3 linked regions of the Homo sapiens genome follow. The protein of the gene in region 3 purifies or fractionates together with the protein of the main gene of each other region. This does not show direct contact. Each region holds a gene or a part of one and is shown on either strand. Other genes may lie near its edges.

Evidence for each region. The genes of interacting proteins can lie anywhere in the genome.
Region 1: the proteins of FGF3 (region 3) and NUCB1 purify together in Homo sapiens (affinity purification with mass spectrometry; 2 studies listed by BioGRID and IntAct, with this or other methods). This does not show direct contact.
Region 2: the proteins of FGF3 (region 3) and RBM19 purify together in Homo sapiens (affinity purification with mass spectrometry; 2 studies listed by BioGRID and IntAct, with this or other methods). This does not show direct contact.

Annotation. Positions count from the first base shown.
Region 1 is NC_000019.10:48,916,476-48,923,872, reverse strand, and holds the end of NUCB1 (nucleobindin-1 precursor), read right to left. Parts: intron 5,170-7,397; exon of another isoform or gene 5,148-5,169; coding exon 5,089-5,147; exon of another isoform or gene 4,982-5,088; intron 4,844-4,981; coding exon 4,751-4,843; intron 4,680-4,750; coding exon 4,587-4,679; intron 2,720-4,586; coding exon 2,549-2,719; intron 2,047-2,548; coding exon 1,941-2,046; intron 1,556-1,940; coding exon 1,449-1,555; 3' UTR 501-1,448; downstream 1-500. UniProt on the Homo sapiens protein: Major calcium-binding protein of the Golgi which may have a role in calcium homeostasis. Acts as a non-receptor guanine nucleotide exchange factor which binds to and activates alpha subunits of guanine nucleotide-binding proteins (G proteins).
Region 2 is NC_000012.12:113,963,326-113,971,717, reverse strand, and holds the start of RBM19 (probable RNA-binding protein 19), read left to right. Parts: upstream 1-5,392; 5' UTR 5,393-5,490; coding exon 5,491-5,526; intron 5,527-8,392. UniProt on the Homo sapiens protein: Plays a role in embryo pre-implantation development.
Region 3 is NC_000011.10:69,807,797-69,816,416, forward strand, and holds the end of FGF3 (fibroblast growth factor 3 precursor), read right to left. Parts: coding exon 8,524-8,620; intron 2,905-8,523; coding exon 2,509-2,904; 3' UTR 2,172-2,508; downstream 1-2,171. UniProt on the Homo sapiens protein: Plays an important role in the regulation of embryonic development, cell proliferation, and cell differentiation. Required for normal ear development.

The DNA of each region.
Region 1 (7,397 bases), on a different chromosome or scaffold from region 3:
TTGGCCTTTCGAAGTGTTGGGATTACAGGCGTGAGCCACAGCACCTGGCCAAATTCATCTTTTAAAAGTTGCTTAATCCCGGCCAGGTGCAGTGGCTCACTCCTGTAATCCCAGCACTTTGGGAGGCTAAGGTGGGCAGATCATGATGTCAGGAGTTCAAGACCAGCCTGGCCAATATGGTGAAACCCCCATCACTACTAAAACAATGCAAAAATTAGAAGGCCGGGCGTGGTGGCAGGCAGCTGTAATCCCAGCTACTCGGGAGGCGGAGGCAGGAGAATCGCTTGATCCCAAAAGGCAGAGGTTGCAGTGAGCTGAGATTACACCACTGCCCTCCAGCCTGGGTGACAGAGTAAGACTCCATCTCAAAAAAAAAAAAAAAAAAAATTGCTTAATCCCAGGTTTGGGTTTTCTGTCCTTGTGGCTGAAGGGACCCTGAGTGAAGGCTGCAGACTCATCAGGGGCAGATGGAAAAATACCAGGATTGAGCCTCTCAGAAGTGATGCTTGAATCCAGTCTTCAAAGATGAGGACTCCGGCAGGTGACGTGGCAATAGCGTTTTGGAGGGACCAGTCCAGATACACAGGCATGGAGCCATGCATTTGTTCCAGAAAGTGTATTTGGATGGAACCGGAACATGGAACAGGACACACAGCAGGATGCGGAGCAGTGTCAGATGAGGCCAGAAAGGTGGGTGGGACTGGTCTTCAGGGGCTCCAGATGAGGCTGAGGGGCTGGGCCTAGGTCCTGGAGTGGGGTCAGCTCTGGGACCCTTCTGGGGCTGTGTGGGGAAGGGGCTGGGGGCCAAGAGGTCCAGGAGGAGGCTGGCGATGAGATGGCTGGAAGCCAGGGGTTCAGGGAGGCCCAGGCTCCTGGTATCAGGGTTCACCGGCTATACTGAGGATCCCCTGCCCCTGGCACCCAGCTGTGGAGGGGACACTGTCTTTGAGGCATCACTGGTTCCACAAAAGGTAGGGGAAGGTCTTGAGGGACCACCCCATGCCCTCATTAATCAACCAGAAGCTTGGCCCGGAGCAGCAGCGGGGATTCCAGTAGCTGTGGGCATACAGGATGCTAGGGCGGCCACAACCCAGGCAGCTGAGGCCGAGCCACCTAGGAACGCAGGCTCAGAGCAGACCCTCTTGGGACAGACGGAGAAGGGGAGGGGGCGGGCTTCTCTAAGTTAAGCCGATCACTGAGCACCTCACTGGACACGAGAGAAGGCAAGCCCCTCGGAGGACAGAAGGGAAGAGCCACAGACTTGGAGGCTGTGAAAGTGGAGACAGGTGGACCTGGGGTGGCAGCAATGCGTGAAATGCCAGGCCGTGCCCCCGCCCCAGGAGCCCAACATGACACCAGCCCCCAGGGAAGCTGACTGTGCCACTTCATCCAGCGCCCATCAGTCGCCTTGGAGCATCAGGAATCCTGAGGGCTGGGGTCCCGGAGGATCACAGATGCTGGGGCACCTCAACCTCAGGGAGCCGCTCGAGAAGTTTCTTTTCTGAAGTGTCCACCTCCTTCTGGTCACCGGCTGGAGCTGGGACAGGTACATCGTCTGGAAATGGAGGGAGGGAATGGTGGCACAGGACATCCGAACCCCTCCTCCCCCAGGACCCCAGAGGCCCAGCCCCTCCTCCCTCACACCCAGGGGTCCAGCCCCCAGCCCCTCCTCCCTCACACCCAGGGGTCCAGCCCCCAGCCCCTCCTCACTCACACCCAGGGGTCCCAGCCCCTCCTCCCTCACACCCAGGGGTCCCAGCCCCCAGCCCCTCCTCCCTCAGACCCAGGAGTCCGGACCCCCAGTCCCTCTTCCCTCAGATCTGGGAGTCTGGGCCCCCAGTCCCTCTTCCCTCAGATCTGGGAGTCCAGGCCCAGCCCCTCCAACCTCAGACCCAGGGGTCCAGCCCTGCAGCCCCTCCTCCCTGGACTAGGGCCAGCACCTGTGTCTGGGTGGAACTTGAGCTGCCCCTCAGGGTGGGCAGCCGGGGCCTTGTGGCCTTGCTGCTGCTGCTGCTGCTGCTTCCGCTGCTCCATGTGCAGCACAGCCTGTGGGAGGTGGGGGGTCACACAGACAAGAGGGTGTGATGCTGGCATTGCAAGTGCTCAGGCCTCAGTCCCCAAACGGAGACTTCACAGCAGCCTGCTAAGTGGTCACGGCCAACCCCTTCTCCGTGGGCCTCAGTTTCTCTCTTTCATTGACAGTCGGGCTTAATAATAGTCAAGGATCCAGTTCTCCCTCCAGTCACAGCTTGGGTCTTGCTTTGGGACAGGGAAACCCTCACCCATCCCTGGCTGAGTCTGCCTTTCTCCCCCTCCTGGGCCTTTCCCTCCTCACTTACAGCCTTAATGCCCTTATCTCACATGGCAGCCACAGAGCCGTCAGAGACGGGAAAACGTCTGCCCTTACTCAAGATGGCGGTGAATACTTGAGGCTCCCCCAGTGATTAACATGGTGGCCACAGGCCTTCCCAGCTTCTGGACACCCATGGGGACACGGACACGGGCAGCCAGAGATTCAGTGGATGGAAGCAGCTTCCCCCGCTGTCACCTGCTGCAGCTCTCTCTTCTGGGCCTCCAGGCGGCCCTGGGACCGCCCTAGAGCCTCTGTCTCCTGGCTGAGGCGCTGGGCCTTGGCATTCAGCTCTGCCTCCCGGGCAGCCAGCTCCTCTTCAAAGCGCCTCAGCTCTTCCTCGGTGTAGGCAGGGTGCATCTCCACTGTCTGCAGGGCAGGCACAGGGGCCATCAGGGGCACAGGTCCAACCTCGGCCCACCCATGTTGGAGAGGGTTGTGCCAATGGGGGAGGTGTAGAGGAGGCTGGGAGGCCAGGGCCATGTGGGTGGGCAAAGAAGCCCAAGTGGGAGGTGGGAGTGGGATAAAGACCGAGAGACAAGGCCGGGCACCATGGCTCCCACCTGTAATCCCAGGACTTTGGGAGGCGAAAGTGGGAAGGATCACTTGACGCCAGGAGTTCAAGGTCAGCCTGGGCAACGGAGCGAGACCCTGTCTCTACAGAAAATTGGCTGGGCATCTTGAAAAATATATAGAAATAGGCCAGGCACCATGGCTCACACCTGTAATCCCAGCACTTTCGGAGGCCGAGGTGGGTGGCTCACCTGAGGTCAGTAGTTTGAGATGAGCCTGACCAACATGGAGAAACCCCGTCTCTACTAAAAATACAAAATGAGCAGGGCATGGTGGTACATGCATATAATCCCAGCTACTCAGGAGGCTGAGGCAGGAGAATTGCTTGAACCTGGGAGGTGGAGGTTGCAATGAGCTGAGAATGCACCATTGCACTACAGCCTGGGCAACAAGAGCAAAACTCTGTATTGAAAAATAAACAAACAAATAAATAAATAAATAAAACAGAGACCTAGATTAGCTGGGCATGGTGGTATGTGCCTGTAGTCCCAGTTACTCAGGAGGCTAAGGAAGGAGGATCACCTGAGCCCAGGAATTCAAGGCTGCAGTGAACTATGATTACACCACTGCACTCCAGCCTGGGTGACAGGAGACCCTGTCTCAAAAAATATTAATAAATAAATAAAAGAATGAGCTAGATTAGCTAGGCATGCTGGCATGTGCCTGTAGTCCCAGCTAATAGGGAGGCTCAGGCAGGAGGATCACTTGAGGACAGGAGTTTGAGGCTGCAGTGGGCCATGATAACACCCCTGCACTCCAGCCTGGGTAATCCCAGCACTTTGGGAGGCTGAGAAGGGTGGATAGCTTGAGTCCAGGAGTTTCAGAGCAGCCTGGCCAACATGCAAAACCCTGTCTCTACCAAAAAATACAAAAATTAGCTAGGTGTGGTGCGGTGGTGCATGCCTGTAATCCCACCACTTAGGGAGGCCAGGTCAGGTGGATCGCTTGAGTCCAGCAGTTCTAGAGCAGCCTGGCCGATATGGCAAAACCCCATCTCTACAAAAAATACAAAAATTAGCCAGGCATGGTGGCTCACGCCTGTAATCCCAGCTACTCATGAGGCTGAGATGGGAGGATCGCTTGAATCCAAGAGGCGGAGGTTGCAGTGAGCCGAGATCCCACCACTGGGCTCCAGCCTACGCGACAGAGCAAGACCCTGTTTCAGAAAAAAAAAAAAAAAAAAAAAAATCACACCTCTAATCCCAGCACTTTGGGAGGCCAAGGTGGGTGGATAACCTGAGGTCAGGAGTTTGAGACCAGCCTGGCCAACATGGTGAAATCCTGCCTCTACTAAAAATACAAAAATCAGCTGGGTGTGGTGGCACGCACCTATAATCCCAGCTACTCAAGAGGATGAGCCAGGAGAATTGCTTGAACCTGGGAGGTGGAGGCTGCAGTGAGCCGAGATCGTGCCACTGCACTGCAGCCTGGGCGATGGAGTGAGACTCCGTCTCAGAATAAATAAATAAATAAATAAATAAATAAATAAATAAATAAGAGTCCTAGAGACAGGGGAAAACAGAGACCCAGAGATAGAGATGCAGTGACCCAGGAGAATGGACGGGGACCCAGAGAGAAAGAGAAGGGGCCTAAGATTCTGAAAGAAAGGTCATGGCTAGAAGAGAGAGAGGTTCAGGACCCCGAGTATCCCCCATGTTCTCACCTCCCAGCCCTCCCCGGTGTCCCCAAACTCCTTCCTCTGAGTGGATGCGAGGAACTCCTCCAGGGTCACGAGGCGGTCCTGGTTGGTGTCCACCTGGGGAGCCAGATAAGGGTGAGTGACAGAGCTGGGGGCCCGTCCTCTCCCCCGCCTGGCCCCCACCTCACATTCTTCATCACATGCTCCCGCATGCGCAGTCGCTCCTCCTCCATCTCCCGCATGTCGTCCTCCTCATTCTTTGGGTCGTACACTTTCTCCAGCTGCAGGAGCAAGCGAGAGGCAGACAGCATTGAGAGGTCCCCAGCGAGCTCATTCCCGACAACTTCAACTCCCAGCAGTCCTTTGGGCACGCTACCACTCCTGGGAGCCGTTTTTGCCCCAGGGGCTGATGGGAGTTGTAGTTTTCACTGAGCTCCCATCCAGGGGGATTTAAGGGGACTGCAGGAGGAAACAAGTGGCTGATTTGGGCGTCCCTCCAGGTGCCCGAGGCTTCCAAGATGCTCACCTCCTTGGTGAAGAGTGCCTCCAGCTCCTGCTCATCCAGGACACCATCACTGTTGATATCTGAAGGGAAGAGGATAGCAAGGTATCTCAGGGGACCGAGGACGGGATGTGTAAGGTCCCTGGTGAAGAAATTTTGGGCTGATGTGGGGTCTGTTATCAGAGGACAGGTAACTACGGGTCTCCCGCGGTGGAACGGTGGCCCCCAGGCTTTAGTACCCCACTAGACCCGTTGCTAGGGCCACTGCCTAGCGACCAGGGGGTTGAGAATGGAATAGATCAAAGGGAGGGTTCGAGGAAACATGCTTGGGTCACTGTCATGCAGGATTCTCTGGCCCTGGCATTCAGTGCTCTGGACACAGAGTCAGCTCCAGGGTTATCAGGGACCTCTGCCTCCCAGACAACCAGGCCAGTGCCGACTCCAGTTGTGAGGGGAGCCTCTCCTACCAACGTAGACCCCACAGCTGCAGGGCTTCAGGCTCGGTCAGCCACACTTCCTGTCCTCACCACCGGCCCTCCTTCCTCGGCTCCCTCAGACAAGCACAACCTTCCTCCTGAGGAGGAGGCCAGGAACCCTCATCTTGCAAATCCAGTGGTTAATTTCCACCTGCATCTGACTTGACTTTCTGCCCTTGGCTTCCAGAACATGATTCTGTCCTCTCTGGCTGCCCCTCCACCTCCTTTGACGGCTCCATCCTCTTCCTGACCTCCACATGCTAGTGTGGCCCAGGGCTCAGGCCTGGGGGTCTCTTCTCTGCCTAAACTCTGGATCTGCGCTGTCCAGTACAGTAGCCGCTAGCCACATGGGCTGTTTAAATGTAAATTGATTAAGATTAAAGAAAATGTAGGGGCCAAATTTAGGGGCTCATGCCTGTAATCCCAGTACTTTGGAAGGCTAAGGCAAGATCATTTGAGCACATTAAGTTCGAGACCAGCTTAGAAAAGATGGCTAGACCCCGTCTCTACAAAAAAAAAAAAAAAAGTAAAAAATTGGGCCGGGTGCGGTGGCTCACGCCTGTAATCCCAGCACTTTGGGAGGCCGAGGCAGGAGGATCACCTGAAGTCAGGAGTTCAAGACCAGCCTGGCCAGCATAGTAAAACCCCGTCTCTACAAAAATACAAAAATTAGCCAGGCATAATGCCAAGTGCCTGTAACCCCAGCTACTCAGGAGGCTGAGGCAGGAGAATAGCTTGAACCTGGGAGGCGGGGGTTGCAGTGTGCCAAGATCATGCCATTGCACTCCAGCCTGGGCAACAGAGCAAGACTCTGCCTCAAAAAGAAAAAAAAAATTTAAAAATTGGCTGGGCATGGTGGTGTGCACCTATGATCCCAGCTACTCTAAGGGTTGAGGTGGAAGAATCACTTGAGCCCAGGAGGTCTGGGTTGCAGTGAGCCATGATCACGCCACTGCACTCCAGCCTGGGTGACAAAGGGAAGCCCCATCTCTAAAAATAAAAAAAATGAAAAATAAAAAAAGGTATAGGGAGTTGCTCTGAACCTATTCTGGTCTGTAGGGACTGCCTGATTAAAAAGATTAAATAAGGTTTTTATTTTTTTATTTTTTAGAGACAGGGTCTCACTCTGTCACCCAGGCTGGAGTGCAATGGTGTGATCGTAGCTCACTGAAGCCTTGAACTCCTCGGCTCAAGTGATCCTCCCACCTCAGCCTCCCAAGTAGCTGGGACTACAGATGCACGCCACCACACCCAGCTAATTTTTGTATTTGTTTTCATAGAGATGGGGTTTTGCCATGTTGCCCAGGCTGGTCTTGAACTCCTGGTCTCAAGGGATCCAGCCGCCTTGGCTTCGCAAAGTGCTGGGATTATAGGGGTAAGCCACTGCGCCGGGCCTATTTATTTGTTTATTTATTTTTGAGACAGAGTCTCGCTCTGTTGCCAGGCTGGAGTGCAGTGGCATGATCTCAGCTCACTGCAACCTCCACCTCCAGGGTTTAAGTGATTCTCCTGCCTCAGCCTCCTGAGTAGCTGGGACTGCAGGTGCGTGCCACCATGCCCAGATAATTTTTGTATTTTTAGTAGAGACGGGGTTTCACTATGTTGGCCAGGATGGTCTCGATCTCTTGAGCTCCTGATCTGCCTGCCTTGGCCTCCGAAAGTGCTGGGACTACAGGCGTGAGCCACTGAGCCCAGCCTATTTTCTATTTTTTAGAGACAGGGTTTCACTCTGTTGCCCAGGCTGGAGGGCACTGGTATGATCATAGCTCACTGCAGCCTTGAATTCCTGGACTCAAGTGATCCTCCCACCTCTGCCTCCCAAGGAGCTGGGACTACAGATGCACGCCACCACACCCA
Region 2 (8,392 bases), on a different chromosome or scaffold from region 3:
CTGTTGTTTGAAGCCATCCAGTTTCTGGTAATTTGATATAGAAGCCCTAGAAAATCAATACACCCCATAATCCTGTAACTTAAAACTATAGCTCATGGGGTGGCTTCCTGGTTTTGTAAATAAAGTTTTATTGGAACACGGCCACAGATGTTAGCTCTGGATGTGTTCAAAATACAGTAGCAGGATGCAGAAGTTGCATTAGAGACCACATAGTGAAATACTCTCTGACTTTTTAAGAAAAAGTTTGCCAATCTCTGATTTAAAACATATACAGACCGGGCATGGTGGCGTGCACCTGTGATCCCAGCACTTTGGGAGGCCAAAGCGAGAGGATCACTTGAGCCCAGAAATTTGAGACCAGCCTGGGCAACAAAGCCAGACCCTGTCTCTACAAAAAATTTAAAAATTAGCTGGGTGTGGTAATGCATGCATGTAGTCCCACCCACTTCGGAGGCTGAGGAAGGAGGATCACTTGTGCTCAGGAGATCAAGGCAGCAGTAAGGCCTGATCACACCACAGCACTCCAGTCTGGGCAACAGAGCAAGACCTTGTCTCAAAAAAAAAAAAAAAAAAAAAAAAAAGGCCAGACACAGTCACTCATGCCTGTAATCCAAGCACTTTGGGAGGCCAAGGCAGGTGGATCACTTGAGGTCTGGAATTTGAGACCAGCCTGGCCAACACAGTGAAACCCATCTGTAATAAAAATACAAACAATTAGCCAGGCACGGTGGTGTGCACCTATAATCCCAGTTACCGTCTCAAAAAAAAAAAAAGACAAAACCCAAAATAAATACATAAAGATTTACTGGGCTCCCTACAATTTCACCCCTCCAAAGCCATCCTGCAGAAATGCCCACAATTAATATACATGCTTGTTGACTTTACCCTATGGTTAAGTATAAATATATGCAGATGTAGTTTATACATGATTAACATTTTAATGTATTAAAAATAATAGGTAATTTTTTCATAATGAAATATCAAAATTATAAAAGGTTACTCAAGGTAAAGGACATTTCCATCCATCCGTATACTCACTTCCTCGGTCCCCTCCCCAGAAGCAACTGCTGTTACCACTTCCTCATGTATCTTTTGAGATCGCCTTTGCTTACATAAATCATATATAGTGTCCCCTCCAAATTCCTATGTTGGAGTCTTAACTTTTCATACCTCACAAAGTGATGTTATTTGGAAATAGAGTGTTTACAGAGGTAACTATATTAAAATGAGGTCATTAGAATTAGCTTTAATCCAATGTCTTTTAAAATGGGGAAGTTTGAACATGAACTCATGGACACAGGGAGACTGTCATGTGGAGATGAAGGCTGAGATCGGGGTGACATGTCTACAGGCCAAAGAGTGTCAAAGATTGCCAGCACACCACCAGAAGTGAGACAGGGAGGAACAGATTCAACCTCACGGCTCTCAGAAGGAACCGGCGCTGCCAACACCTTCATCTCGAACTTCTAGCCTTCAGAACTGCAAGACAATACATTTGGAAATTTACGACTACCCTGGCCTACAAACATGACAAGTATCTATGTATCCTCACCCATCTCCCTCCTTTTTTTGTGTGTGTGTTTTGTTTTTACCTAAGTGAAAGCATACATAATACATTATTTAGTATATTGCTGGTTTTCACTTAACAATATATTTTGGAGATTGTCCCATGTCCCATGTGCTAGTTCTTCTCTAACAGCCCATCTCCCATTCCCTGAGCCTGCTCCTCCACTTTGCTCTGTGCCCCAGATGCAATCTGTGTGCACTGCAACATCTGTGATCATGCCTCCAGCTTCCCATTGGTTCGGCCAAGGGGAGGCTCCAGTAGGAAACTGCAGTTGGGAAGAGAAAGAGGGGACAGTGTATTTATCCCCGACACACACACACCTGTGGTTCCACAGTGGCTGTATCTCTCTATAGCTCTAGTCCTTAAAGTACGTCCCTCTTCCATGGCTCCTGGCATCACTGAAGCTCAGGAATGACATGTCCTACTCTGCCCTTCAGCCCCAGGGGTGGTGATAGCTCCCCACTGTTGCCAGGCCCTGGGGTTTGGCCATCCTTTGTTGGTTCCCTTAACCCTTCCTGTATTCATTTGCTGCAGGTGCTGTCTCAAATTACCACAAATTAGATGGCATAACAATGCAAAGTTATTCTCTCACATTTCTGGAGGCCAGAATCCCCCAAAGCACCAGCAGGGCCATGCTCCCTCCAAAACCTCCAAGGGAGAACGCTTCCTTGCTTCTTTCAGCTTCTGGTGGCTCCAGGTCTTCGTTGACTTGTGACTGCATCACTCCAGACTCTACCTCCACCTACACATGACGTTCTCTGTGTGTCCTTTAAAAGGACATGTGTCATTGGATTTAGGGTCTACCAGGATAATTCAGGATGATCTCATTTTGAGACCCTTAAGTACATTTGCAAAGACCCTTGATATGGTTTGGCTGTGTCCCCACCAAATCTCATCTTGAATTGTAGCTCCCATAATCCCCACGTGTCCTGGGAGGGACCCAGTGGGAGATAATTGAATTATGGGGGTGGTTTCCCCATACTGTTTTCGTGGTAGTGAATAAGTCTCACGAGATCTGATGGTTTTATAAGGGGAAAGCCTTTCACTTGGTTCTCATTCTCTCTTTGCCTGCCACCAGGTAAGACATCCCTTGCTCTTCCACCATGATTGTGAGGCCTCCCCAGCCATGTGGAACTGTGAGTCCATTAAATCTCTTTCCTTTATAAATTACCCAGTCTCAGGTATGTCTTCATTAGCAGCGTGAGAACAAACTAATACAACACTTTTTTGCAAATAAAGTCACATTTACAGCTTCCAGGGGTCAGGATGCCCCCAGTGTGTGTGGTGGTGAGGGGACAGGGGATCATTCATCCCACTACACTGCCCACCCTTCTGTAAATAGCTTTTTGTCCAGATTTGCTTTTGTTAAATCCTTTTGAGTATACCTCTGTGTCCTGCTGACTGATGCATTTCCTTCAAAAACATTTATAGCTACATACCTACCGTTTTTTAACAACTGCATAGAATTCTGTTGAATGGACAGACCTTAATTTACAATTAGCATTTAATGAACTCCTATTACCTGTCTCCTCCTGGTGCCCAGTGTGATGCTTTGCAAAGATGGATCTAAGGATGCCCCTATGGCAACATAATGTAGAAAGAACAAGTGGCCTCATCTATAACTCTGAACCTACACTGTGCGCTCCTCACCAGCGAGTTCTGTAGGTTTATGCTGTGGCAGATGCATGAGCTCCCTGCATTTGGGGCTCAGTAGGAAAGAGGCATATTCGAGGATGCCATGTTTGAGCTGGTCTTAGAGAGGGGATGGGAATGGGTTCAGAAAGATATTCCAGTGGCCAAAAGCACATGAAAGATGCTGTTTCATTAGTTATCGGGGAAATGCAAATCAAAACATTGAGTCACCACTGTACACCCACTAGAGTGGCTATGATTATAAAGACCCAATAACAAACACTGGAGGAGATGTGGAGATATTTGAACCTTCATATACCGCTGGTAGGAATATAAAATGGGGAAGCCACTTTGGATAACAGGTTAGCAGGTTCTAAAAAGGTTAAGCATAGAGTTACCATATGATCAGGCAATCCTACTCCTAGGAATATATCCAAGAGAAATAAGAACATATGCCCACACAGGAACTTACAGGTAAATGTTCACGGCAAGATTATTCACAGTAGCCACAAAGCGGAAACAACCCAAATGTCCATCATCAACTGATGAATAAATAAAATGTAATACATCCATATATGTAATACTATTCAGCAAAAAAAGTGTGGTGGCTCACGTCTGTAATCCCAGCACTTTGAAAGTTCAAGGCAGGTGGATTGCTTGAGCCCAGGAGTTCAAGACCAGCCTGGGCAACATGTTGAAACCTCGCCTCTACCAAAAAATTACCAAAAAAAAAAAATTAGCCAGGCATGGTGGCATGTGCCTGTAGTCCCAGCTGCTCAGGAGGCTGAGGTGGGAGGATGGCTTGAGCCTGGGAGGCGGAGGTTGCAGTGAGCTGAGATTGTGCCACTGCACTCCAGTCGGGGTGACAGAGCCCGACCCTGTCTCAAATAAATAAACAGATAAATAAAGTGCTGATTCATGCTGCAACATGGAAGAACTTTGAAAACATTATGCTAAGTGAAAGAAGTCAATTACAAAAGACTACATATTGTATTATTCCATTTACATGAAATGTCCATAACAGACAAATCCATAGAGACGGAAAGTAGATTAGTGGTTATCAGAGGGAAGGGAGAGGGAGGAATTGGAAGGTTATAGCTAAAGGGTGTGGTGTTTCTTTGGGGGTAATGAAAATGTCCTAGCATTGATTGTGGTGATGGCTGCACACCTCTGTAAATATAGTCAGCACCATTGAATTGTGCACTTTAAGTGGGTGAATTGCATGGTTTGTGATAAAGCTGTTAACAATAAGAAGGGGGGACGGAATGTCTTTTAGGTGAAGGAAATTGCAGAAGCTTGGCAGCAACGTCCAGTGCAGCTGAGGCACTGTGGGGAAACAGAAAGGAAATACCGTCATTTAAGAGTGAAAATAGGGGTTTTCATAGGATGTCTCCATCCAAGAGTAGGTACCGAGAATGCTCAGAGAAGCAATAGGAAAATAACATCCCTTTCACGTTCTCACCTCCTTAACCCCTAGCATAATAAAGAATTATTCCCATTTTATAGAAGTAGACACAAAGGCTCAGAGGCCATTTTGGCCAAGATCTCTCAGCTAGAAGATTGGCCAGCTGAGAGTTCCAAACATTAGGAAGGGAGGCAAAATGCTTGTGGGGCTGGGGTTGAAGGCGTAGAGACTCATTGTAGGGCCCTAGGCAGTCCCTAGCTCGAATCTGACTTTCCAATTCATAGTTATAAGACTTTGAGCAAGCTGCTTTACACGCACGATTCCCAGTTTATCTGCCTGCAAAATGAGAGCGTTTATTTCCAACATGTTCATTCCAAGTATTTACACAAAAGGCTCAATACTTGATTTGTGTTGGCTGGCAATCTCTCTAAACTTCACTTTCCCCATTTCTACGAGGAAGGCAAGGGTCCCTAATCTTGCCCCCGTTCTCAGGGGAGTCCTAAGGCTCAATAATAAAAATAAAATAAGAAAAAGGAGAGAACGCGATTGCCCGGTTGGCGCGACCCTTAACACCGAGCTAAACCGGCGCATGTTAGGGACCGGCGCCCCCTGCCGCCTTCTCCGCTGCATTGGCGTCTCACAGAATCCGCCCAAGGCCCTGCGCCTGCGCAAAATGCAAGCGCCCAGGCCCACCCCTTGTGGGGTGTGACCTCCCTGAGTAGTTTTGGATTAGCCACGCCTACTTCCGGACAGGTCAGGCCAAGGTCTCAGCCACGTGACTGTGTTCCGGCTCGGTAAAGATGGCGGCGCCCAGGGCGGTAGCGTGAAACTTGGTGGAAGACGCTGACCAGTCGTGTTGGAATCAAAACAGCGGGGACCCTGCGCCATGTCGCGACTGATCGTGAAGAATCTCCCGAATGGGGTGAGTGCAGAGGCAGGACTTGGGAATCTGAAATGAGACCAGCCGGGAGCTGTGAGGTAGGGAAGAGATGCCTGGAGGTGATCGAAGAATTTTTGCTCTGGGGCAGGACTCCGGGCCAATTCTGAACTCAAAGGGGGCGGGATCCTGGGCTTATCCCCATTTGATCCCGAGGAAAGAGGAATAGTGACTGCTTACGGTTTCACGGCCGGTTGTTTGGTACCTGACTCCTAACACACCTCTTCTCGGGGAGATGACAACTCCCACCTTGTGGCGAATACCCTGCTCCCACAACCTCTTTCATTCGATCACTGTTTTTTAGTTGTTGACCCGGGACATGGTCCGACACTGTATTTATATTCCTCTCCCAGTCTGGAAACTGTTGGGGAAGACATGGGGAATATTAATCTGCGGACCTGCGTTCCAATTCCCACTCCCATCCTTAGGGCAAGTAGGAATACGGAGTGGGTAAAGGGCTTTACAGCATTTATCCAGTAAGTGGGGAGTGGTGACCCAGCCATACTTTTTTGTTTCCCTGGAGCCCAGCGCAGAACCCGACACGTGGTAGGCAAAATAGGTGAATGTACGTAATATTAGATGATTAGATGCGGTGGGCTCGAATGGATCATCCTTTTTTCTCTCTCTCGCTGTTTTTTGTTCTGTTTTGTTTTTTTGTTTTTAAATGGATTACTGCTCCTTCCATCAGGTTAGACAGTGTCTCTTGATGCCTCGCTTTGTGGGATGAGGATTTTTAGCGTAGCTGCACTTCCTTTCCCTCCCAAATTCAGCTTTGTTGTGTTTCAAGTGTAGTTGATTCTCTTATCATTGTTTGTCTTATCTCTTTTTTTTCTCTCTCTTTCATGGCTTTTTTTGGTTTTGTTTTTTGTTTTTTTCTTTTTTTGTTTTTTTTTTTTAAACGGAGTCTGGCTCTGTCTCCCAGGCTGGACTGCGGTGGAGCAATCTCGGCAGTCTCGGCTCACTGCAACTTTTGCCTCCCGGGTTCTAGCGATGCTCCTGCCTCAGCCTCCCAAGTAGCTGGGACTACAGACACGCGCCACCAAGCCCGACTAATTTTTTTATTTTTAGTAGAGACATGGGGTTTCGCCATGTTGGACAAGTTGGTCTCGAACTCCTGACCTCAGGTGATCCACCGCCTCGGCCTCCCAAAGTGCTGGGATTACAGGCGTGAGCCACTGCACCTGGCCCCCATTTCTGTTCTAATGTTGTGAGTTTTTTCCTTTCCTTTTTTTTTTTTCATTTGTCAGGTGGGACAAAGGAACTTTGTAACACACAGTTTTCAAAATTCAAACAGTATAGTAGTGTATAACATGAGTAGCAAAGTCTTTGCTCTGTCCTACCTTCCCTCTCTGTCCAGGAGTAACCATCTTCATTGATTTGTTTTTGGGACTCCTCACATGTATCTCTGTATATTTGAGGAGTGTACTTTCCTCCTTTTGACCTGCCTGCCCCAGTGACTATCTGCTAGGCCTCAACTGTGAAAAATAAGGAATTTAGATCATCTGTTCCTCCTCTCCAGTGTCTGTAATATTCTTGTTTTTAATTATCCTGTTATAATCTCTGAGTAGTATACTTAAAAATATCTATTACTCATCCATCCATCAGGTTAGACATGTCTCTTGATGCCTTGCTTTGTGCGATGAGGATTTTTAGCGTGGCTGCACTTCCTTTTCTTCCCAAATTCAGCTTTGTTGCACTTCACAGTGTAGTTGACTCTCTTATCATTGTTTGTCTTATCTCATGAATGAAAGAATAATAAAAACAAGGGCAGTTGCAGCTGACACTTGGAGAGTTTACTGTGTGCCAGGCACTGTTCCAGGTGCTTTAGGTAAAGTAACATTTAATCCTCACCATATCCCTGTGAGGTAAGTTTTATTTTTACGCCCATTTTAAAGGTAAAGAAACCAAGATACAGCGAGGTACAGGGATTTGCCTGAGGTCACACACTGGTGTAATTTATAGAGCAGGGATTGAATTGAGCAATCTTTAGTTTAGGGATTGAATTGAGGAAATAATTAGTAGTGAGTACTTGTGATATTGCTGACACTGTAGATAGAGGTGGATAAGCCTGTGTCCTTATTTTTAATGGGACTTGCAGGCTAGCAGAAAAGAGAGGCACCAGATCATTACGATGCAAGGTGCATCACTGACATGTGAACCGAGTGCTGTGGGAGCACAGTGAGGGTTGGTTATCTCGTCCATCTAAGGCATCTAAGAAAGGCCTCCTGGAATAGGAGATGATTGAACTGAGAATGAGGAGTTAGCCAGGGCCTGTCTTGGGAAATATCACCCAGAGGGGACAACCAAAGTAAAACCTCGGAAGTGAGAAGGCTGTGAGAAATTTGTCAAAGCGTGGTGCTGAAGAGGTTGGTCAGGGCAGATCTTGAAGAATTGCATGTTTTCCTTTAGGTGCTCGTCCTTGAGACTTTGGTGCCAGAAAGTCACCGAAAGGTTTTTGGCAAAGGAATGATGGATTCAGACTTGAGCCAGGTCTCTCCCAGGCACTGAGGAATTGAATTCACTGTCTTATATTTCTGAATTGAGTCACAAACCTTGATTCTGTAGGCCTTGGGCAGATCATTTATCCCTTATGAGTTTCATTTTCTCTATAAAATGTGGACAAAAATTCCTAACTCACAGTGTGATTGAGATTTTGATTAGATCAGTTAGTAAGAAGCTACCTCAGAAAATGTCATCTTCTGGCTGGACTGCCAAGGCCTCTAGCTTCTTGCATTTTCAAACTTATTTTGGCTGTTCGTGGGGCCCTGAATGTCCCCTCAACTCCACTACCACACACACAAATATCCCAGTATCTGCTTAGAAAACTGAGTTGTGAGGGTAGCCTGGCTGC
Region 3 (8,620 bases):
ACCTGCCCCCAGCCCCTCCTGTGTGTAAGGAAGCAGGAGTTCCCACCGTGGCACCGGAAGCAGCGGGCACCCTCTGACCCCTCCCAGGGAGCCCACGCTCTCAGCCTGGGGCCCGCCTTCTCTCCCCTTCCCCTCATCCAGCAGAAGCGGGGTCGCTCTCCTTTTGGAGGCCAGCAGGCCCCTTGCCCTCTGTGCCTGATGCTCAAGCTGTGGTAACACAGCCCCACACAGGGTAGGTGGCTCAAACAGACATTTATCATCTGCAGGACTCTGGGCTGGATGTCCAAGACTGGGGTGTCGGCAGAGTTGGCTCCTTCTCAGGGCTATAGGGCAGAGTCTGTTCCTTTCTTGTCCTTTAGCTGCTGGTGTTTGCTGGCAAACTTTGGCACTCCTTGGCTTGTAGCAGCATCACCCTTGTCCCCACCTTTACGCTCTCATGGCGTCCTCCTGTGTGCACGGCTGTGCCCATGTGTCTCTTAAGGAGGATCCTGGTCACAATGGATTCAGGGGTCATTCTACTCCTATGTTACCTCATCTTCACCAGTTGCATCTGTAATGACCCTATTCCAAATAAGGTCACATGCTGAGTTACTAGGGGTTAGGACTTCAACAGATGAACTCTGGGGAGGAGACATAATTCAGCCCATGACCCCCCAAACACACACACAAAATGAAGTCCCTTGGACTCTGGTGTGGGGAAGAAGGTGACCATGGCACAGCCATCAGCTGCGAAAAATCCACATTCTCTTGTCAAAGCTGTTTTACATGTTAAACAAGAGCCCCCAGTGTCTCCTACGCCTTCATCAGGGACCATCTGTTGATCCTGCAGCACTGAGTACTGCTGCTTCCCCTGTGTTGACACAGCCCCGGGCAAGTTCCCCTTGCCAGGACTCAGGGTCATCATCTGCAAGGAGGGAGTGATGGCAGCCCCTGCCCCATCTCACTCTAGAGAAACAACAAAACCCACAGCAGAGCTCAGCTGCGTGCTGCTCCTGTTGACTGCCAGGAATGTTCGCAGCTGCAGGGGAGCCATTCCGGGAAATCTGACATGCGCTGGGGGCTGAAGGAGGCACCGAGATTTTCACTTGTGTTGCACACGTGCCAGGGAGGAGCCCAGCCTCCCTGTGGGTTTGGCGAGTCTGCACTAACCAATCAGGTGGCTCTGAGTCTGGGCTCTCTGAGTCTGGGCTCTGTGACCACAAGCTCTCTGGCCCTGGACACTCTGACCCTGGGCTCTCTGAGTCTCAGCTCTCTGACTCTGGCCTCTCTGACCCTAAGTTCTCTGACCCTGGGCTCTCTGAGTCTGGGCTCTCTGACCCCTGGGAGGGCATGGGAACAGAGAGCGATGGTCCTCACAGTCCCAGGCTCAGGAGAGCCTCCTCACCTGGACCCTGCCCATCCTGCCAAGTGCCAGGAGAGGTTAGTACACTGCCCATGCTGGCTCTCACCTGGGCCGGCCCAGGTGATTCCACCCATGCCATTGTTGGGGAACAGGTGTGAGGAGGCACCTAGTCCAAGGCAGGGCCCGGCCACTGAGTAATTGCTTCTCTGAGCCTCACCTTCTTAGGTAAAGACAGGGTGCACGGGCCCCAAGAGCAGGTTGTAAGGATAAAGGAAGTTTCTGTGCTGCCTGACCTGACACAGTTGCTCTAAAGGGTCCCTGGAGAAGCACACAGCTTCCAGAGGGAGAGGCTTTTTAGAGTTTTCAAAGAAAGTAAACTCTCTCTCTCTCTCTCCACACACACACACACACACACACACACACACACACACACAGACACACACACATCACACATTCAGACACACCCAGAAACACACACACACATACATGTCCTCACACAGGTACCACTAACACAAGATCACACATACCCACATGCACACTCACGCTTTCAGAAATACACGATCCTTCTCTCCACGCACACACACACGATGCACACACATGCACAAACATGCCTTTGCTTGTTTCCAACCATCCAAAAAAACGTAACTTTCTAAAACCAGGGAACTGAAATGCACCTTTAGCCCGATTTCTGGGAATGCCGTCTTCCTCTTAAAGCAGCAGCTGACGCAGGCTGATGCCAGCGCGGATTCTGCTGTGCTGGAAGCAAGCACGTTCCAGTAAAGGCGGCAAGCGCTCCTCAGCCTGCATCACGGTCTACCAAACGACAGAGTAGAATAAAATACTTTAATGTTGTGATGACACAAAGCCCCACACTGCCCCGCTGCTCCTGGGAGGCTCCTCAGTCTGCCAGGGCTGGCACTCAGGCCCTTCCCTGCCGGCTTCCTGCCACACAGACCCACAAATGCCCTGCATTGCAGGCAGCCCCCTCCGAGCTCCGACTTGGGCCCTCTTCAGTTCCCACTGGACCCTGATTTGAGCTGGCTCTGGAAATAGCTGAGAACCCAGACGCGGGACGCAGGGGCAAGGGCTCAAGGAGGAGAGTCAGAGTCAAGAGGCTGCCACGCCAAGATGTCGCCAGGAGCTCTGGCGGTGGCCACCAGGCCCAGCTAGTGCGCACTGGCCTCCAGCTGGGAGCCCAGTCTCGAAGCCTGAACGTGAGAGGGCTCCAGGTTATCCGGGCTCTGCTTCTGCCGCCGCCGTCGGGGCTGGACCCCCTTACCAGGGGGTCTGGGCAGCCCACTCTGTAGCTGCCGCACCATCTCGTGGTCCCTGTGGTCCAGCACGCGGGGCAGGAACAGGGAGGACTTCTGTGTGCGGCGGGTCTTGAAGCCCCTGCGGGGCCGGCCCTTGCCGTTCACAGACACGTACCACAGTCTCTCGGCGCTGGGCTGCCGGCGGGCCCCAGGCGTACTAGACACCGTCCGGTACAGCCGGGAGGCATACGTATTATAGCCCAGCTCGTGGATCCGCTCCACAAACTCGCACTCGGCGCTGTAGTGCTCCTGCGGGGATGAGATATCATGGTCAGTGCCCCGGGGAGACTGTGGCAGCGTCAGGGCCCAGGGTTGCCTGATGCCTCCCTCCCCTCCTGTGAGGCTGTTCGGTCCAGTGCCAAACCCCAGCGCACTCTCAGCCAGTCACACCTTTGCCTAGGCCCTGCCCTCTGCCCAGCATGTCCTTCCTCCCCTGTGTGCCTGGTGAACTTGGCCTTCTGCCTAAAGGTCACCTTCACTCAAAGCTGTGCCAGACAACTCCCAGCTCCTGCTCTCTGGGTTCCACCAGCCTCTGTCCCCCATCTGAGGGCGCTGACACAGCAAAGGGATGTGTAGGGTTGTCTGTGGAGCAGAGACCAGGCCGGCCAACCCAGGTGCCCTGGCAGTCTGCTGGCAGTGTGGAGGTCAGCAAGGACTGGGCATTTGGACAAAGGAAGATGACAACACCCAGATCTCTTTTAAAGAAATTGCAGAGGCTGGGCACGGTGGCTCATGCCTGTAATCCCAGCAGTTTGGGAGGCCGAGGCAGGTGAATCACCTGAGGTCAGGAGTTCGAGACCAGCCTGGGCAACATGGCAAAACCCCGTCTCTACTAAAAATACAAAAAAATTAGCCGGGTGTGGTGGCGTGCGCCCACAATCCCAGCTACTTGGGAGGCTTAGGCAGGAGAATCACTTGAACCCGGGAGGCAGAGGTTGCAGTGAGCAGAGATTGTGCCACTGCACTCCAGTCTGGGCGACAAGAGCAAAACTCTGACTCAAAAAAAAAAAAAAAAAGAAAAGAAAAAAAAAGAAATTGCAGAAAAGAAAAAAGAAGAAAGAACACAAAAAGCAGGAAGGGAAGGGGACACAGCCAGGTTTGATGAGCCCAGACTCTCCATTAAACGCTGCGCTCAGGGGCCCCAGCTGGGGTCATTGACCCCTGAGCAACACTCTCTTAAGCTGGAGGATCTCGCCTTGCAGGTTGAAGAGGTTACAACACAGAGCAGGGGCTGGGGCCTGGCATGAGGCACATGATCAATCAGTGCCACAGATACTGCTGTTCTTAGGATGAGAGCAGAAGCTGGGGTGTCCCACCACAAGCAGGACAGAGAGGACACCTCTTTGTCATCAGAGATTAATGGGACCCTTGTCAGGCCCAGGGTGCAGTGGGGGAAGGGCAGAAGGGACCCTGCCCTCTCAAAGGCACAGTGAAGCTCTGAACTGAAGGAGCTTACACCAACATCCCCAAGACTTGGCCGTGGGAGTTTCCCTCAAGGGCTGCCTCATGGGGTCTTCTTAGTCTGTGGCGTAGGGAAGAGGTGGGTATGCCTTATGCAGACCCACTAGGCTTCAGTCCCAGCTACAGGCAAGTGGTAATGCCTAGGGCCACCTCCCTCAGGGGATGACTGACAGGAGCTGCTCCCTCCAAACCAGAAAGGGTGGTGGGAGGTGGAAGCAGCAGGTGCAAGGCAGACAGCAGGATCTCTCTTTCCTCCTGGGGACTGGCCGCAGGGAGGAGTCGGAGGCCCTCATGGTCTGTCCCCATCTGGGGTGTGGTGTCCCGTGGCAGAGAGAGAGAGTGGAAATGGCCTCCAGAGGCTCCCAGACTGGACCGAGCAGCATCTGACCTCGCAGGACCTCAGGGAACAAGATGCTTCAAGCACCCCATCCTGTTTTTCAGCGACATGAAAGCCCAGAGCAGGGAAGGGTGGAAGGCTTGACCTGGTGGTAGGGGCTGCCTCTCCCCATAACCCCAAGCCCCCCTGCTCTCCAGCCCTCTTGGAGGCCCAGTGCCCCCTGGGCCACAGTCTGGATGTTACTATCCAAGACCGGTCTCCATGTTTATAGATGGGGAAACTGAGGCCCAGGGGTGGTGCCAGGCCCTACATTACAGGGGATAGAACAGTGTCTGATCTGTGCCTGACCCCCACATAGCCTGGGGCTCAGCGACTATCTGGGAATGAGCGGGTGGGCTCAGGGCCGACTTCCCCACCCCACACACTGGGTACACCATGTTAGTGTCTGGCTCCCATGGCAGACTGTGAGAAGCTCAGGGCAGGACCCAAGCTTCTCCCAGGTCCCTCGATCCTGCAGCAGGTGAGTCCTCTCAGGGCCAGAGAGGCCAGGAAATAGGCTTTCTCTTTGGGGGGCCACTTGAGGGGTGGGTCACTGAAGGACAGGTGCCTGTGAGCCTCAGGTGGCAGGGGGCTCAGGCTCTCCCAAGGTGGGAGATTGGGGGCAGTGTAGATCAATTGCTGACACGTGGTAGGGCACCTGGGGTGGCCAAGATGACCAGGGCAGAAGGTGTTGGCTCAGGGGCCAGGGCCATAGACTCCAGAGCTACTGCAGTTGGGACTCGCTGTGACAACACTTTCCAATGTGTGTCCTGACACTGCCGCCCCACCAGACCTGGTTCCACAGGCCCCTCCCCCAGGGCCGCTTCCACCCCATGAAGGGTGGGGAGGAAGCCGACTCCGAAGCTGCTTTGTTGAGGAGGTGACTTCTAAAGGGAGCTGTAAGGGCGGGGCGGGCACTTTCTCATGGGCATTTTCTGGAGGAGGGCGTTCCAGGCAGTGAAGGTGTGGCCTGAGCAGTACAGATGGCTTGGAGAGTTGAGGGGGCTTCCGGAAGCCGGAGGAGGCTCAACCTCTGGATGACAGCCCCCCTGGGAGCAGATGGCACCTGGGCTGCTGCTCTGTGGGTGGAGCTAAGGTGCCTGGGGGATGCCTGCGCATCATGGGAGTCCTCAGAAGCCATGAACTGGGCTGATTTGCTTTTTTAGGAAGCCCCTTTAACATGCACTAGCAGAGTGCAACACATGGTAAGTGCCCAGGACACTGACTGGTGAACGAAGGACTGAATGTCAGATGGGTGGGTGGATGGATGGATGGATGGGTGGATGGATGGATGGATAGATGGGTGGGTGGATGGATGGATGGATGGGTGGATGGATGGATGGATGGATGGGTGGATGGGTGGATGGATGGATGGGTGGATGGCTGGATGGATGGATGGGTGGATGGATGGATAGGTGGATGGATGGATAGGTGGATGGATGGATGGGTGGATGGCTGGATGGATGGATGGGTGGATGGGTGGATGGATGGATGGATGGATGGATGGATGGATGGATGGGTGGATGGGTGGATGGGTGGATGGGTGGATGGCTGGTTGGATGGATGGGTGGATGGATGGATAGGTGGATGGATGGATGGGTGGATGGCTGGATGGATGGGTGGATTGCTGGATGGATTGGTGGATGGGTTGATGGGTGGATGGGTGGATGGGTGGATGGGTGAAAGGATGGAAGGAAGGAGGGAGCATGGACGGATGGACATGTGAATGGGCAGATGGACAGATGAACGGTTGGAAGGATGGATGGAAAGAAGGATGAGAGAAAGGAAAGAAGGAAGGAAGGAGAGGTGTATGGACAGATGGGTGAAGAGAATAAAGGAAGGGGAAAGAAGGAAGGAAGATGGATGGATGGCTTGACAAACAGATGGACTGGAGGTAGGAGAGGCTGGAGCAGTGATCCAGGTGGGAAGTGATGAGCCTGCCTTTTAAGGCGTGCTCTCAGGGATGAGGCAGAGGGAGGTGAGGTGTGTGGGCTGAAGAGATGCAGGGGCGTGGTCTGAGGACTAGGGATGGACTGAATAGCAGGAGGGGTCTACCATGACTCCCAGCCCACTCTGGGTGAGAGTGAGTGGCTGGTGGGGCGATGATTAAGATGGGGAGTCGGGGAGCTGCTGAGTTCGGTTCGAGTGTCTGAGTCAGCAGGATGTTGGGGGAGGGTGGTCTATACCTCAGAAGGGAGGTCAGGGCCAGACCAGGAGTGTCAGGGTGCAGTGCTCACTGGCCCACAGTGAGATGAGCTGGCCTGAGGGCAAGCATGCTGCCGGCAAAGTCCAGGGAGCCCCGTGGTGGGACAGCACTCCTAGGCAAGCTGGCCGCACGCAGGACTGTGGTATCAGGTGGCAGGTGGCAGGTGACGGAGTTGGCATCCAGGCTACTATGCCTCCCAGGTTGTCTGCAGGGCAATGGGAACTTCTCCACTGGGCACTCTGGAAAGTTCCACACCCTCCAGCCAGACTGCTTGGCTAAGCATCCCTGGTGGGGCTAGGAGCCTCTGTCCACCCTTCTCAAAGCCAGGCTGTGAGTTCTCAGGCACGGAAGCCCCAGGTGGGCTCTGAACCACTGGGACCCCCTCATGTCATGCTTTATTCTGTCTCTCCAAATCCTGGCTCCCCTATGGCAGAAGCTGGCACCATGAGGGCCCCTGCTCCCAGACACAGCTTCCAGGACACTGACTGATGAATGGACTGAATGTCAGATGGATAGGTGTATGGATGGATGGGTGAGTGGGTGGGTGGATGGATGGGTGAGTGGGTGGGTGGATAGGTGGATGGGTGAGTGGATGAGTGGATGGGTGGATAGGTGGATGGATGGATGGATGGATGGATGGATAGGTGGATGGGTGGATGGGTGGATGGGTAAATGGGTGGATGGGTGGATGGGTGGATGGATGGATGGATAGGTGGATGGTGGATGGGTAAATGGAAGGATGGGTGGATGGGTGGATGGATGGATGGATAGGTGGATGGATGGATGGGTGGATGGGTGGATGAGTGGATGGATGGATGGGTGGATGGGTGGATGAGTGGATGGGTGAATGGGTGGATGGGTGGATGGGTGAGTGGATGGGAGGAAGGAGGGAGTAGCCTCTGGACCAGAGAAAATGAAGGGGCGCATCCCGGCTTTCTGGACCTTCCTTTAGCAAAACGGCTAAAAATCTGTGATGAAATCATCAGCTTCTGCGAGAGGGAGCTGCGGGATGTGTCCTCTGTGAGCAGGACTGAGCAGAGAGCTCACTGCAGGGAGATTGTCCTTGGGCCGCGTCAGCCAGGCTACTCATGGATGGAAAACCTCTCATTGCCCAAGGAAGTATCAGCCAAATTGCATGTAATGACTAGTTGGAGGTAGCAAATTTCCCTGTGACATGTATTTTACTCTGTGTATTCCCCACCCCTACCCCTTATGAAGAGGGGCGCTGCCATACCCACAGAGTAAGGAGACCCTTTTTGGTTACACGGAGGCCCAGGCAGTAGATAGACTGGGTCCCAAGCCAGGGCTCCAAGGCTCCTGTGTGCCCGGGACATGGGCGCCATCCCCCTTCCCCTCCTAGGCTTCAGCTCTCGCCTTTCCACCCTTGGAGAGAGCCGGTGGAGCTGGGCCAGCGTCCTCCTCTCCATGCTCCCAGGAGAGCTCTGGCTGCCCCAAGGAACACTCCCAGGTTGTCTTGGGTCCATTTATTTTGGTGGAAATTTGGAGAACAATCACTTCCCTGCTCTCAGCTACTCTCAAGGGAGGGTGGTAGTGATGACAAGGATGGGGGAAACCTTTGCTAACCTGGCATTCTCCAGATCCCAGGTCCCCCAGGGCCAGGCTCCAGGTCACTCGCGGAGCAGCCTCTAACAGACACAGCCAAAGATCACTGGGCGTGGAGCCCTGGGCCAGGGTCTGGTCCTAGCTTGGGTCCCGTGTACCCTTGGCAAAGCATTCTACTGCCCACATCCCCCGTCCCCTGGCTTGATGTGCAGGCCAGACCGCTACTCCGTCAGCGCCCACCCACGTGACAGCCTGGACTCACCGAAGCATAGAGTCGTCCCCTCTTGTTCATGGCCAGGTACCGCCCGGAGAAGAGACCCCTGATGGCCACAATGCCCACCTCCACTGCCGTTATCTCC